Linked DNA regions of Homo sapiens. The protein of the gene in region 1 purifies or fractionates together with the protein of each later gene. This does not show direct contact. Each region holds a gene or a part of one and is shown in the gene's direction. Other genes may lie near its edges.

What was found.
Region 2: the proteins of AGFG2 (region 1) and STARD7 purify together in Homo sapiens (affinity purification with mass spectrometry; 2 studies listed by BioGRID and IntAct, with this or other methods). This does not show direct contact.

The regions. Positions count from the first base shown.
Region 1 is NC_000007.14:100,563,051-100,566,957, forward strand, and holds part of AGFG2 (arf-GAP domain and FG repeat-containing protein 2), read left to right. Parts: intron 1-783; coding exon 784-912; intron 913-1,167; coding exon 1,168-1,253; intron 1,254-1,881; coding exon 1,882-1,941; 3' UTR 1,942-3,907.
Region 2 is NC_000002.12:96,207,314-96,211,220, reverse strand, and holds the start of STARD7 (stAR-related lipid transfer protein 7, mitochondrial isoform 1 precursor), read left to right. Parts: upstream 1-2,393; 5' UTR 2,394-2,786; coding exon 2,787-3,076; intron 3,077-3,907. UniProt on the Homo sapiens protein: May play a protective role in mucosal tissues by preventing exaggerated allergic responses.

The DNA.
Region 1 (3,907 bases):
GCAGACAGCCTGGTTCTTCCCCTGCCCACACGGTGCCAGGCCACCTAGCACCCAGGTCACAGAGCCAGATTTTAGAATTAGAAGCACACAGGTGGCTACTTACCGGAGACCGCACTGAAGACTGTTTTAGAGTTGACTGACAGTGGCAGCGATTCTCCTGTCTCCAGCCCTCAGCAGTGTCCCTTTGGGCACCCAGCCCCAGTCCCTTCTGTGTCCCGAAGCTTAAGCCACCTGAAACACTCACGCTGTTCCCTGCTTCCATCAACTCCAGGCCTGTTGTCTTCTCTCACCCTGGCCCTCCCCAGCCTCTGCTGCTCTCCCCTCAGACTCATGCTGGCTGAAGCCTTGAGGCTGGGGAGAGAGGAATAAGAGCAAACACAGAAGAGCTGTGTGGTGGGCCCAGTGCTGAGGGCTTCGTGGCCCTGATTTGATCTTCACAGTAGCCCTATGAGACGGACTGTCCCCATTTTAGAGATGAGAACTGAAGCACAGACAGCGTTAGAAGTTTGTGCTGTTTTTGCAGTTTAGTGGGAGGCTAGCCCAGTCCTGCACCGCGCCCGTGCCTGGAACTACCATGCCCTCCCTGCCACGTACCCCCGGGCAGGGAGAGGGCAGGGTTGTTTGGTGGTGTGAGAAGCAGAAGAGTTCCATGGCTGGGTCCCTCGTTCCTCATGTCAGGAAAAAACTATATCCCATTTTCCCATCTTGGAGGGACTTAGGAAAAACAGTTCTCCAGCCCACCTTCCAGAAGTTCACCTGAGCCTCCCGTCTTTCACTCCATAGGGCCCGGCTTTGGGATGAGCAGTGCTGGGCCTGGCTTCCCCCAGGCAGTGCCACCCACTGGGGCCTTTGCCAGCTCCTTCCCAGCACCGCTGTTCCCCCCGCAGACCCCGCTTGTTCAGCAGCAGAATGGTAAGAGCTGTAGATGGACAAACCCTTTCACCCCATCCCATCTCTGCATAGAGATCAGTTAGTTGTTCCTCCGACCTCATCAGAGCCCATGCAGTGCCCTTTCTGACCAGCAGGGGGGACCAGGGAAGCACCAGACCCGCCCGGGTACTTCCACTGCTCTGTTCCCTTACTCCCCCAGTTTAGGAGGGCCCCCCTTGCTGTCCGCCTGCAGGAAGGCAGGCTGGTGTCAGCTGAGTGACTGCTCTCGCCCCCTAGGCTCTTCCTTCGGGGACTTAGGATCAGCCAAGTTGGGGCAGAGGCCACTGAGCCAGCCAGCTGGGATCTCCACCAACCCCTTCATGGTGAGTGTGCCAGCAGGGGTGCTGTGGTAGGGCTCGTGGGCTTTCCCTCTGGGACAATCCTTCCAGAAGAGGCTGATGTGAGGTGGCCCCTGTGCCCCTTCCTCGTGAAGGTCTGCGTTGTCCAAGCCAGGGCTGAGCTTGGGCCTCAGCTCTTCTGGGCACTGGCATCTCCCATGCTGTTCCAGCCCTGCCCTTGGCTCCCTTCTCCCTCACTTTCCTTTTTTTTTTTTTTTTGAGACAGCCTCACTCTGTCTCCCAGGCCCAATCTCAGCTCACCGCAACCTCTACCTCCTGAGTTCAAGCAATTCTCCTGCCTCAGCCTCCCAAGTAGCAGGGACTACAGGTGTGCACCACCGCACATGGCTAATTTTTGTATTTTTAGTAGAGATAGGGTTTTCCCGTGTTGGCCAGGCTGGTCTTGAACTCCTGACCTCAGGTGATCAGCCCACCTTGGCCTGCCAAAGGGCTGGGATTACAGGCATGAGCTACCGTGCCTGGCCTTTTCTCCCTCACTTTCCCACTGCCCTCAGCATAGCGATTTTTCAGGAGAAAGGACTCCTGGCTGCCTTTCTTCTAAGCTTCCAGTTCCTCTCCCCTAACTGGAAAATGTATTGTTCTTTCTTTCCAGACTGGACCCTCATCAAGCCCATTCGCCTCCAAACCTCCAACCACCAACCCCTTCTTGTAGCACTGTGTTTTTGGGGGGCCTCTTCCCTGCCTTCTGGGGCCCCTCTGCTCCCTAGAGCTCTGGTGACCACTTGCCTGTGGGCATTTCTATGGGCCTTGGGGATGGTGGAGGTGCTAATGCTTTGCTTGGGGCCTACAGGTGAAAGGTGGCTGCCCTCAGATTCCACAAAGCCTCTCTCCCCTCCCTCGTCCCACCCCCACCCAGGCAGGAAGCCCAGGAGGAGTGCGGGCAGGGCCTGACCTGGAGGAGTGATGGTTGAGGGGGAGGGATTTTTTTCAAATGATCAGTCCCCTGTGGAACAGCTCTTCCCTGGGCCTAGCTCGCCAGCGCTGTGCTCCTCATGGACGGGAGCGCAGTGGGGAAGGTAGGGGAAAGATGAGGCACAGTGTTGATGGGGCAGTGACCAGACAGTCCTGAGACCCAGAAGGCCCAGGTGGCCCAAGTGCTCTTGGTGGCCCAGCTTGGCCAGCACACACTTTCCTCCTGCAGCACCCCCTGCTGAAGGGGTCCCCCATTGTTTTGCTTCCCCAGCGCCCAGGATGAGCGGTTTACCATCGAGCTTACCCGGGCCCGGCTCCTGTCAAGCACTTTAGTTAGCTGTTGGTGTCATGTTTGGATACCAGTGTTTTATATTTATACATAGAGAGGATTTTCTAATATAGCCTATTATATATAAATAGATCTATCTATATGCACATACATACATATATACACACACCCAGCCGATCTCCCGCTCCCAGACTGCTCTCGTATGTGGGGAATGGGATGAATCCCCATCTGTGCCTCGACCATCAAAGCCGGAGCTCCAGGGCTGGAGGGGGGGCAGCCATGTGTCCTGACCCCCACCATCCCCAGAGCCTGGGTTTTCCAGGGAAAGGCTTTGTGCAATTGCCTGGTCTTTTTTTTTTTTTTTTTTTCTCCATGTGCCTCCCTGTCCCCAAATCTCTGCACCAAAGCTCATTGCAGGCAATGTTGGAAAAGAACTGCATTTGAACGAAAGAGAAAACGGCGCCTGTGGTTTTGCTTCAGGCCACTTTGAGGGGTTGCAGGTCAGTCAACATGACTGATCCTTGACCTGGCTCTGCTGGGCTGGACTGCCTGGGCCAGTGATAATGCTGCCATTGGCCAGAGACAGGGCAGAGCCCGTCCCTGTCTGAACAAGAGTCCCGCATTAGCAATGAGAAGAAGCGTGGCGGGAGAGGAGCCACCACTGCCGGGGACTGGAGTTTGTTGGATGTGAGGGGAATGCCCACTGGGGCCAGGGTGGGCAAAGGAGGTTGGTGCCAATGTGGTGCTGGAAGTAGACCCCTCCTGGGTCTGGAACATTCTCTGCCCCAGGCTCTTTCCACCTGGGGATGTTGTGACAACATCCAGCTGTGGTGTCTGGGCTATTTGTGTGGTGACAAGACAGACCTGGTCAGGGGGTGGGTGGCAAACACCTCACCTGGCTGGGCAGAGGCCACCTTGCTGTTTGGCCCAAGGCCAGGTGAGGCCCCTCCCTTTCCACCATTGCCCTGGCCCCGTGGCCATTCATTCTTGGGGTTTGTCTGAGTCTTCCACAGAGAGCAGCAAAGAGATATGGGAGTTGGGTGATCAGTGTATTTACTTTGCAGATTTTTCTGGAAATAACCTCTAGCTGCTGCTATTTGCAAGGCTGGGATTGGCCTCCCTGTCTTTTCCAACAATCAGGACCCCATCCTGTCTGTTCCTGTTCTTCTCCCAGCCTCTGCCCTCCTTCTGTCTCCTGGGTGGTCTCCCGCTTCGCTCCTGGCCTTTGCATGTTCCATCTCTTCTCTTTCTCCCCTCTTCGCCACCCTAGATTATCTCTGTGTCCCTCTACCTAATTCTCTTACCAGTTCTTTCCTTTCTGCTTAGAGCCGGAGGGAGGGAAGCTGGAATCTGTTATGGTGTATTAGGGGGAGGAGCCTTTCTGTTATTTCCCCCCAGCTTCCATCACCCTTCCCTT
Region 2 (3,907 bases), on another chromosome or scaffold:
GGTAAATTCCTCTCCTCTTGAGGTGTCAAGATAACTTAGGTCTCCTGAGCCTGTTAGAAAGTGACATTCTTTACTTACCACAGGTCAGGAACCTCGTACAGGGACTGTGTTGACATAGTATGAGGCCAGATTTCCCAAGGGGCTCTATAAGTCAATTTTTTGGCTTATTGGCTCTATAAGTCAACTTTGTTTTTTTTTTTTTTGAGACGGAGTCTCGCTCTGTCGCCCAGGGTGGAGTGTAGTGGCGCGATCTCGGCTCACTGCTGCAAGCTCCACCTCCCGGGTTCACGCCATTCTCCTGCCTCAGCCTCCCGAGTAGCTAGGATTACAGGTGCCCACTACCACGCCCGGCTAATTTTTTGTATTTTTAGTAGAGACGAGGTTTCACCGTGTTAGCCAGGATGGTCTGGATCTTCTGACCTCGTGATCCGCCCGCCTTGGCCTCCCAAAGTGCTGGGATTAAAAGTGTGAGCCACCATGCCCGGCCTAGAGCTCTTTTTTCTAAGAAAAAATCCTTTTAAGGCCAGGCACGGTGGGTCATTGAATCGTGAATTCAATGGGTGGTCTCTGAGCAGTCACCCTGAATCAGGCCTGTTAAACTTCTTTCAGGGCTCACTGAATGTGACTAGATAAATAAGGAGTGTTCTCCAAGTTAGGCCTGCTGGATTTTCATCAGCAATTCCTTCAGAGATCCCCTCCATATATACAAACACACACACGAAGACAAGACAGACAGAAGGCCTTCCAAATTAAGGTCCCTAACCAAGAACTCCAAGAGTACCCCTTCCAAACTATCCTCCTATTCTCCATCTGACAAATCTCCCTGAAATATTCCTGATTGAGAAGTCTCCCGAACCAAGACTCTTCCTAGTTAGGGACAGCCAACTGGGATGCCCCAGGAGCCAAACTGAGACAGACACCCCATGGTGGAGCTACAGACACCCACCATGTGGCTACAGAATCAGTCCGGAGAAGGAAGGAGGCACTGGCAGCACCTAGGATACTCAGCAACCTGCCACCCCATGATGGGGCTATAGCTACAGACACTCCATGACCTGGCTACAGCGCCCCGCTATGGAGCTACAGATACCCTGTGACAGGGCTACAGTTATGGGATGTCTCCCCAGGACTATTTCTCCATTGCGATTAAGTCCATGCATATTGGGCTAGCAGTGCCCCACTGGCAGAGACGGTGCCAGAGTTAGCCCCTAGTCCAAGAGAACTATGTGGCCGCTTAGGCTGGCCTCTGGATCTGTCACCAGAGGTGGGGCTACCGAACCATGGACAGGTAGCCACAAGGGGTATCCCAGACGAACCCCCAAATTTGTAACCGTACAATGGGTTCACCTTGCCCACTGCCTAGACAGAGCCGATTTATCAAGACAGGGGAACTGCAATAAAGAGTAATTCACGCAGAGCCCACTATGAGACTGGAGTTTGTTTCAACATTACTCAATCAGTCTCCCTTAGCATTCCGGGATCAGAGTGTTTAAGGATAATTTGGTGGGTGGGGGAAGGCCAGTGAGTCCAGAGTGTTGACTGGTTGGGTCGAGATGAAATAATAGGGAATTGAAGCTGTCCTCTTGCACTGAGTTGGTTCCTGGGTGGGGGCCACAAGGTCAGATGAGCCAGTTTATCCATCTGGGTGGTGCCAGGATCCAACCAGTGCGGGGTCAGCAAAATATCTCAAGCACTGATCTTAAGAGCAGTTTAGGGGGATCACAATATCGTAGCCTCCAGCTGCATGACTCCTAAACCATAATTTCCAATCTTATGGCTAACTTATTAGTCCTACAAAGGCAGTCTAGTTCCCAGATAAGAAGATTTGTTTTGGGAAAGGGCTGTTATCCTCTTTATTTTAAACTATAAACTAAGTTCCTCCCAAAATTAGTTCACCTAAGCTCAGGAATGAACAAGGACAGAAGCAAGATGGAATTGGTTAGGTCAGATCTCTTTCACTGTCTCAGTTTTAATTCTGCAATGGCGGTTATCACTGGGAGCCCCCAGCCCCCGCAGAGACATGCGGAGCCCCGCCCCCACCCTGCACTCTAATAAAGAAGGGGGCCAGCGTGCCGGCCTCTTAAAACAAGTTAACACCTGGCAGGATTCTAACAGGAACCTGGCCAGGTTTCTCCGCGGGGCGGGGCTGGGACGGCCGGAAGATGGCGGCGACGGCGGCAGCCGGGTCCGAGGGTCACTCTCCAATGCGCCCTTGACGGCTCTCGCCGCCGAGCCACCTACCTTGCTAGCAGGCGGCCTCCGCGCATGCATGAAGGGGCAGGAGGGGGCGGTGACGAGCACTTCACGGCGCCAATGAGCACCCAGGAGCCCAGGTCGCGCCCAATCACGGCCCAGGTGGCGGAGAAAAAGTAGGGTGCGCGCGCGCCGCGCGTGTGGCAGTCGCGGAAGGCGCGGGAGCTTGCGTGCTGCTGGGCCTGAGCTGTCTGTCTCGTTTCTGTCCGCGCGCCCTGCATCCCGGCCCCGGGCGCCCGCTGGAGGTCGCCGAGGAGCCACAGGGCTGACTGGTCTGCTGCCCGGGCCCAGGAGTGCCTGGTGTAGCAGTCGCGGAGCCATCCCGGCGTCTGCTGCCATGACCGACTCTCCCCTCAGAGGAGACTCTTCCTCAGCGGTGGCTGCAGAGACAGATGAGCGGCGGCTCCTGGCCGCGGGACCGTGAGACGGGTTCGTGGCCGGCCATTTAGGGGGACGCTGCGACCACCGCCTGCGCCCCTCCGGACTGGTTCCTTGGGCCCCGGAAGCTCGCGGCGGGCCCTGCGGGAGGCGGCATGCTCCCGCGGAGGCTGCTGGCCGCCTGGCTGGCGGGGACGCGGGGCGGGGGCCTGCTGGCGCTTCTGGCCAATCAGTGCCGCTTCGTCACGGGCCTGCGCGTGCGGCGCGCGCAGCAGATCGCGCAGCTCTACGGCCGCCTCTACTCCGAGAGCTCACGCCGCGTTCTCCTCGGCCGCCTCTGGCGCCGGCTGCACGGCCGTCCTGGCCATGCCTCTGCCTTGATGGCGGCGTTAGCCGGCGTCTTCGTTTGGGACGAGGAGAGGATCCAGGAGGAGGAGTTGCAGAGGTGGGCGCTGCGGCGAGCTCTTTCTGGGCCGTGGGGTGGGGGGGCTTGTGAACCCTGGGGCCTGCCCTGTGGTCGTTGGCCCTTGTTTACCCGGTGGTCTTTTAATTGGCAATACAGTCGATTGAACCTGCTTCAGCAAACCGCGTTGTTATTTGTCTCTGTGTGTCAATTTGCATTTGTCGGGTTATAAAATAGAACTGAAAGTGTGTAGGCTGGTGTGTAGGAGGGAGACTTTGAGTGGGGCGAGCAAGACAGTAAAGAAACAACACTGTAGAAATCAATTAGATAGCGAAGGCATGGAGGCCCTTGTTCATGTAATCTGTAATCTTTAACACAACCAGAAAGGTGCAAATTCAAAACAAATTTTAAATTTGGCCTAAGGGTGGTGGGCTGCTATTTGCAAAATGACTTCAATCCAGATGGGACTCAGGCCTGTGAGAAAAGCCAGGAGAGCCCTCTGTCATCGTGACTCGTGGCAAAATTGAGAGCCTGGAAGCGATTTTGTCCAGGTTACACAAACCAGCAGCCCAGACATTTGAACCTGTAAGAATTAGGTCAGATTTTTGCGACGTTAACTAGAACTTTGGGAATAGTGTCCCATTAGACTCTGAAGTCATGCTGTCGTCATCAAAACTGTGAAAAGCCCAGTACCATTGATTACGTTTGTTAATCTGTAGTTCTGAGACTGTAGTTTCCAGGTAATGTCATGGGGAAACTTTGCTTTGGTTTTTGGTTTACCTTGTGTCTGTATTTTCTTTGCAACAGATATTCTTAAACTGTGCCCTCCCTGCACAGAAAGTACTTTGCCGTGATTTCGGGAACCAGAGACAA